Linked DNA regions of Homo sapiens. The protein of the gene in region 1 interacts with the protein of each later gene in a pairwise test. Each region holds a gene or a part of one and is shown in the gene's direction. Other genes may lie near its edges.

Region 1 (3,808 bases):
AGGAGAGGAATAGCAAGTTCCGCAATGAACACATTAAGTTTGAGAGGCCAGCAGCCGCTGCACAAAGGATCACAGAGGTCAGGGGGAGCCACTGGACATAGAGCACAGAGGTCAGGGGGAGCCACTGGACGTGGGATCACAGAGGTCAGGGGGACCCACTGGACGTGGGAGCACAGAGGTCGGGGGAGCCACTGGACGTGGGAGCACAGAGGTCGGGGGAGCCACTGGACGTGGGAGCACAGAGGTCGGGGGAGCCACTGGACGTGGGATCACAGAGGTCGGGGGAGCCCCTGGACGTGGGATCACAGAGGTCGGGGCAGCCACTGGACGTAGGATCACACAGGTCAGGGGGAGCTAACAGTTGCCCCAGCTCCCTAGGGAGCCGGTGAGCTCGGCTGAGCTCTGGCGCTCCAAGATTGAGGAGTTGGGTGGAGGAGTGGCAGAGGATCCCCTGGGGAGAGCAAAGTCCCAGAAGACAGAGGAACTCCAGTGGCCCACCGTGTCTGGCAAGGTGGGGACGGGTAAGGGCAGTTTCCGGGGGGAGTCGGGGGCTAAATCGGGGCGGGATGAGAAAATGGGAGTCTATGAGAAGTTTTCTGTGAAGGGCAGCAGGGAGGTGGGTCAGGCGCTGGGGCGGTGGGTCCAGGGGCGAGTCACAGAGAGGCAGCTCCCACGGCGCGCAGAAGGGCTGTGTGAGCAGGTCCATGGTCGCGCAGAGGTGCTCCATGCCAAGCTACGGGAAGGCAGGACTTTGGGGACACAGCCGGTGGGAGATGGGTGAGGCGATCCCCTCAGCACGTCCTTGTCTCTGTAAAACGGCCACTTCCCAGAGGCCTGCAGTTGCAAGTGAAGCTGAGTGAGCACTAAAGGCCTGTTTAGGGTCGAGGCTGTGACGGGCCTCGATGAGGGGCCCACAGCCTTAGCAGACTCAGGAGGCAAAACCAGGGCAGATGATTAGAAATGCGTGGGTGGGGGGACTTGCCTGGGGTCCATGGTGGGGGCAGGGGCCTTGCCTGGGGTCCATGAGGAATAGTCGGCTTGCCCGGGGTCAGTGGGGGGTGGAAGGGGCAGTGGGCTTACCCGGGGTGAGGGGATGGGGGGGCAGTGGGCTTGCCTAGGGTCAGTCAGTTGGGGGACGGGAGGGGCAGTGGGCTTACCCGGGGTGAGGGGATGGGGGGGCAGTGGGCTTGCCCAGGGTCAGTGAGGGGATGGGGGGGCAGTGGGCTTGCCCGGGGTCAGTGGGGGTGCTGAGGGGGGCAGTGGGCTTGCCTGCCTTTTCCGTTGCCTCATTTTATCTCAGCAGTAAGTAACAGTGGTAGAGCCGACTGTGACCAGCCTTCTTGTCCCTCCCCCAGAAGCTGGGGAAACTGTGCCCCCCGACACCTCCAAGATGCTGAAGCTAGCACAGCAGTGTCTGGAGAGGGCCCAGTCGACGGCCGCCAAGCTTGGTGGGTCTCCTGCAGTAGGCGGCTCTCCTGGGGCATCCCCCAAGCCCGCATCTCCTCTGTGGGATGTGGCCCACCGCTTGACCCCTGGTTACCCATGGCTTGCAGGGAAAACACGCCTGAAGCCAACCATGCCTGCAGCTGCTCCCATTCCCCAGCCTGCCGGCCGACACCGCCGTGTATACTCCGATGAAGGAGGAAAGCTCTCTCCTTTTCTGCCACCCGAGATCTTCCAGAAGCTTCAGGGGGCAGAGTCACAAAGCTGTAAGAAGTAAGATGGACAAGATGGGAGGTGGGATGAGCCTGGGATTGGGTTTTTGAGGCTGAGAAAGATGAGCTGATGACAGCGATTTTTTTTTTGTTTTTTGAGACAGAGTCTCACTCTGTCACCCAGGCTGGAGTGCAGCGGCTCAATCTTGGCTCACGGCAACCTCCACCTCCCGGGTTCACACCATTCTTCTGCCTCAGCCTCCCAAGTAGCTGAGACTACAGGCGCCCACCACCACACCCAGCTAATTTTTTGTATTTTTAGTAGAGACGGGGTTTTGCCATGTTAGCCAGGATGGTTTCGATCTCCTGACCTCGTGATGCGCCTGCCTCGGCCTCCCACAGTGCTGGGATTACAGCGTGAGTCACCGCGCCCGGCCCCCACAGTGCTGGGATTACAGGCATGAGCCACTGCGCCTGGCCTGACAGCGAATGTTTTTAAAATGAGTCCCAGAATGGGAATATCCCCTGGCCGGACACAAGCAAATGCAGGCGGCCTGGTGGCTCACGCCTGTAATCCCAGCACTGTAGGAGGCCGAGGCGAGCAGATCACCTGAGGTCAGGAGTTCCTGACCAGCCTGGCCAACATGGTAAAACCCCGTCTTTACTAAAAATACAAAAATTAGCTGGCCGTGGTGGTGTGCACCTGTAATCCCAGCTACTCAGGAGGCTGAGTCCAGGAGAATCGCTTGATCCTGGAAGGTGGAGGTTGCAGTGAGCGAAGATTGTGCCACTGCACTCCAGCCTGGGCAACAAGAGTGAAACTCCGTCTCAAAAAAAATTAGGCATAGTGGTGTGCCCCTGTAGTCCCAACTACTAGGGAGGCTGAGGTGGGAGGCTCACTTGAGCCTGACAGGTTGAGGGTGCAGTGAGCCGTGATTGTGCCAGTGCACTCCAGCTTGGGCAACAAAATGAGACTCTGTCTAAAAAAAAAAAAAATGACCGGGCGCGGTGGCTCACGCCTGTAATCCCAGCACTTTGGGAGGCCGAGGTGGGTGGATCATGAGGTCAGGAGATCGAGACCATCCTGGCCAACAAGGTGAAACCCCATCTCTACTAAAAATACAAAAAATTAGCTGGGCGTGGTGGCGGGCACCTATAGTCCCAGCTACTCAGGAGGCTGAGGCAGGAGAATCCCTTGAACCCAGGAGGCAGAGGTTGCAGTGAGTTGAGATTGCGCCACTGCATTCCAGCCTGGGCGACAGAGCAAGACTCCATCTCAAAAAAAAAAAAAAAAAAATTTAGCTGGGAACAAGGATGAGTTATATATCTATATATATGTAGAAATCCATACATACAAAACTGAGCAGACAAGTTTATAACAGCAGAGCAGATATAGCTGAAGAGCAAATTCATGTATTGGAAAAAAGGTCAAAAGATAGCTAGAATGAATTACAGAAACAAAAAATAAAGACAGAAAACAAGAGATGGAAAGCCTAACGTGTTCGTTGGAGTTCCAGAAAGAAAATGGGAGGGAGGCCAAGGCAGGCAGATCACAAGGTCAGGAGTTCAAGACCAGCCTGGCTAACATGGTGAAACCCCATCTCTACTAAAAATACAAAACTTAGCTGGGCATGGTGGCGCGTGCCTGTAACCCCAGCTACTTGGGAGGCTGAGGCAGGAGAATCGCTTGAACCCAGGAGGTGGAGGTTGCAGTGAGCCAAGATCGTGCCACTGCACTCCAGCCTAGCAACAGAGCGAGACTCCGGCTCAAAAAAAAAGAAGAAAGAAAATGGGAGAGAGGCATTATTAGAAGTTAGAATGGCAGACAGTTGTCTAGAACTGATGAAAGATACAAAGACACAAATGCAAAAAGCCCAGTGACTCCCAAGTGGGAGAGACGAGAAGGGTCCACTCCTCCTGCCCCTGCTCTGGCGGGGCCTGGCTTCCCAGTCCCCTTGTTTCTGCAATGTGGCTTCAGGGCAGGGTGGCCAGGCGTCAGGCTCTGACTTTCCTCCTTGTCCTCCATTGTCCCTGACAGTGGGAAGGTACGAGGGAACAAAGCTTTCAAGGTGGAGTGGCTGTTGGGAACTGTATAAAGGAGACAGGACACTTCTTCCTTTCATGGGTCACAGACTAATCTGGCTGTTTGACCC
Region 2 (3,808 bases), on another chromosome or scaffold:
TGGGCCTCTCCTCGTCACATCCCACCCAGGGACCCTGCCCTGCATTTCCCTACCCAGGACTGGCCCAGACTTTAAAGAGCCAGGGAGGTGTCTGGGGCTGGGGCACACCCCTGCTTTTGGGCCCTCTGAACATGCCTCTCCCCTGCTTAGCAGACCTCATGGCTCCCACTGAACTGAATTCTACAGTCCTCGCTGTGGCCCCTGCGGGCTGGCCCCTGCATGCCTCTTCATCTTAGCTTGAACCACTCTCCCCTCCAGCCATGAGGCCCTTCCTCTGGGTCTTTGACCTCATGGAGCTGCTTCCCACCTCAGGGCCTTGGGCCGTGCTGTTGCTGTTCCCTCTGCTGAAATGTTTCCCCACCTCCCCCAGGTCAGTTCCACTGTCCTCAGTCATATCCCCCGGGCCTCCTAGGCAGGTTTTCCATCCCGAGCTTTCTCAGTGCCTCATCTCTCTTCCCTTGTGGGACTCTGAACTCCACGACGGAGGGAGCAGTTTCCTCCTGTATGTCACTGTGCACCCAGGACCTAGCACTGAATTGGTTAAGCAATTTGCTGCCTCTGGCTGTGACTTCTGCTCACTGGGGACTCAGTGACCCCAGTCACCTTTCTTTCCCCCGCTCACAGACCCATTCAAACAGCAAGGGAACTAGAGGGACACCAGGCACAGAGAAGGGTCCCAGGCACGCATGGGCCCTGCCAGAAGTTCTTCCTGGGATTCAGCCTCTCTCCCTCTCCACGCAGAATTGGTTTCCAAAGTCCCAATCTAATTTAAAACCTTGGCAGCAAACCTCCAATTGCAGCTGAGAGCCCTTCCCACTCCAAGCTGTTCATACCTGGGGTTGTCCCCGAGCAGTGGCCACAGGCGGTGAGGGCTGCACCAGAGCCTCGGGGCAGGGGCATGACTGCCCTTGCATGCGTCTCCGCCACACAGTTATCACTTCATTCATTTAACAGCCTCATCTGGAGGATCTGCTTGGGGCAGGCCTGGGGCAGAGCATGACCAAGACAGACATAGTCCCCCGCCTGCATGAGGCTGCCAGTCTGTGGGGAGGGGAACAAACGAGTACACAGGTACACAAGTACAGAGAGTGCTGTGACTTGATGAAATGGGTGACACCACAGAGGCAAGTTGGGGGACCACCTGCGGGGGTGACATTGGGCATGATGTCTGGTGAGTGAGGAGGGGAATGGGGTGAGAGGATCCAGGCCTTAGACAGGGAAGGTGCCACTTCCCGCCACATAACTTGGCTTGCGGTCGGTGGCTGTGTGGAGGAAGGAGAAGAACGGGAAAAGAGAAGAGGTCGTGGGGGCCTTATCACATTGGAGCCGCCCGTGGTTCTGGCTGGATCCTGTCCCGAAAAAATGGGAAGCCATTGGAAGGCTTCTGTTTGAGAGGTGGCATGACAAAAAGACCACCCTGCTTTGTGGGGTTGGGTGGTGTGGGTGAGGAGAGGACGGGGGAAGCAGGCGCCGCCCCTGGATTGTCCAGGAGAAAGATGACGGTGGCTTGAACTAGGGTGGTGGCAGCAGATGGAGCCCAGTGGATGGGTTCCAGGCTGCATTGGAGGGGGCACCACAGGCCTTGTGGGTCATCCTGGAGGAATGGGCGACAGAGGATTCTCAGGTGGAGGGGGTGCCATTTCTGGAGACAGGAAAACCTGGCACGGGGGAGGTTTGACAGGGGGACAAGAGCCACAGCCATTAGACATCCAAGTGTGGACGGTTGGAAATGTGAGTCTGGAGCTCGGGTGAAATCTGCATAAATACAAACTTGGGTTCTGTCGTATATATTTGGGAGAGCGTGTGGATGGAGCTGGGCCCCCATGAGTTGGTGTTGGATAGGAAGGGGAAACGGTGAAGGAAATTGGAAAGGAACAGCCCAGGAGATGGGAGGAAAACTAGCAGATGGTGAAAGATAGACAGAAATGTGCCCATGCGCTTGGCAGCGGGTAGGTTGGTGGTTGCAGCACCTTGAGCAGTTTCAGAGAGGTATGGCGATGGAGCCAGGTTAGAGTGGCTTGAGAAAAGAAGTCGGGGTGTGGACATGTAGACAGTCCAGAAGTTTCCTGTGGCAGAGGGGACATGCGGCCAAGCCCTAGGGAGGCTGGCACATGGTTCACATCCCTCAGCCCTGCCTCCTTCTCACACTTGGGCCAGGCCACGTGATTTCTGCAGCCAAGGAGGCTGACCTTACCGAGCCCTCGCATGGGCTGGGCGCTGACCTGAGTGATCTTACTGAGCCCTCCTCACAAGCTTATGTGGCAGGAACTGTCACTCCATTTTATTAGAGGAGTCGTCTGAGGCTCTAGGGACTGAGGTGGCTTTCCAAGGTCACAGCCAGGAAATGGCAAGATCCCCCTACTCATCCCTTTGTCTGGTCAGCTCTGGGGGCCCCATTGCCTGCAGACTGAGGCTGGGCTTTGGGCTGACACTGCCTTTCCCTGGGAAGGGGCTGAGCTGACGGTGCCCCGCATCTCCCCCTTCTTTCCCACAGCGGTTCCTCAGTGACTATGGCCTGCAGTGGGTGGGCGAGCCCATGGACCAGGAGGACTCAGAGAGCAAGACAGTCTCAGAGCATGGCGAGAGGGACTGGATGACAGCCAAGAAGTTCTGGAAGCCAGGTAGAGCAGGGCGTCTGCCCCAGGCCCTCTTCAAAAGGAATTCTCCAACAGTTTGCTGTTGGCCGGCAGCTCCCCAGAGGCCTATCTCATTCGTGCCCGGGTCCCTGACCCAAGACGCCCTGAGAGCCCACAACTTGCCCCTGAGACAATGTGGGAGCAGCCTTGGCCTCCATCACTGACCACTTAACCTGCTGGCCCACTTCTCCACGGTCCTACCTCTGCTCTCTCTTGCTCATCTGTCAGAGACCCAGAGATACAAGAGGTAGCAAGGCCTTATTTGCCTCAGGTCACATAGTCTACAAAACGCCACCAATCTGGAAGATGTTGCCGTTTTAAAAAAAGGCAATCCTTCTGTTCTAGAAGCTGCTGCCAAATTCCCAGGTTTGGCCTCCCTCTCCAGGTTTGCTTATGGCCCTTGGAATCCACCTGGTTCTGTGGGCCCCTACCATGTCTTTTTTTTTTTTTTTTTTTTTTTTTTTTGAGACGGAGTCTTGCTCTGTCACCCAGGCTGGAGTGCAGTGGCACGATTTGGCTCATTGCAACCTCTGCCTCCCAGGTTCAAGCAATTCTCCTGCCTCAGCCTCCTGAGTAGCTAGGATTACAAGTGTGTGCCAACACACCCAGCTAATTTTTGTATTTTTAGTAAAGACGGGGTTTTACCATGTTGGCCAGGCTGGTCTTGAACTCCTGACCTCGTGATCTGCCCACCTTGGCCTCCCAAAGTGCTGGGATTACAGGTGTGAGCCACCACGCCTGGCCTACCATGTCTTATTTTTAACTTCTAATATCTAGAGGGATTCCTCCCACAGTCCCCTCCTATAGACCCACAGATTTGGGTCCATAAAACTGGCCATTTCTGAAAACCAGGCCCATTCTCTTCAAAGAATGGAGATTGTCACCCAAAAGATGCTTCTCCAGGCTCTAGAGTCAGGCACACCTGGGCCCTCAACTCGACTCTACCTCCTATCCCAAGTGTGACTTGGGCAGATGACCTCTATTCACTTCATCAACAAAACAGGAGTGTTCTTCCCTGGGAGTTACAAGGAGCAAATGAGTTAAACGCAGAGCGCCTAGCTCTGGCCTTGCAGCCATTGTTGTTTCCAAAGTCTGAGGGCAGGGGTCCCACGGGAATAGGAGCACAGCTTCCAAGGGGCCCATTTGGAAGATGACGACACCTTCTTGGTTTC

What was found.
Region 2: the proteins of VPS9D1 (region 1) and UBXN11 interact in binary tests that used the Homo sapiens proteins (3 or more experiments, as listed by UniProt).

What each region holds. Positions count from the first base shown.
Region 1 is NC_000016.10:89,714,370-89,718,177, reverse strand, and holds part of VPS9D1 (VPS9 domain-containing protein 1), read left to right. Parts: intron 1-12; exon of another isoform or gene 13-834; intron 835-1,273; exon of another isoform or gene 1,274-1,355; coding exon 1,356-1,448; exon of another isoform or gene 1,449-1,553; coding exon 1,554-1,716; intron 1,717-3,808.
Region 2 is NC_000001.11:26,293,018-26,296,825, reverse strand, and holds part of UBXN11 (UBX domain-containing protein 11), read left to right. Parts: intron 1-2,494; coding exon 2,495-2,621; intron 2,622-3,808. UniProt on the Homo sapiens protein: May be involved in the reorganization of actin cytoskeleton mediated by RND1, RND2 and RND3. Promotes RHOA activation mediated by GNA12 and GNA13.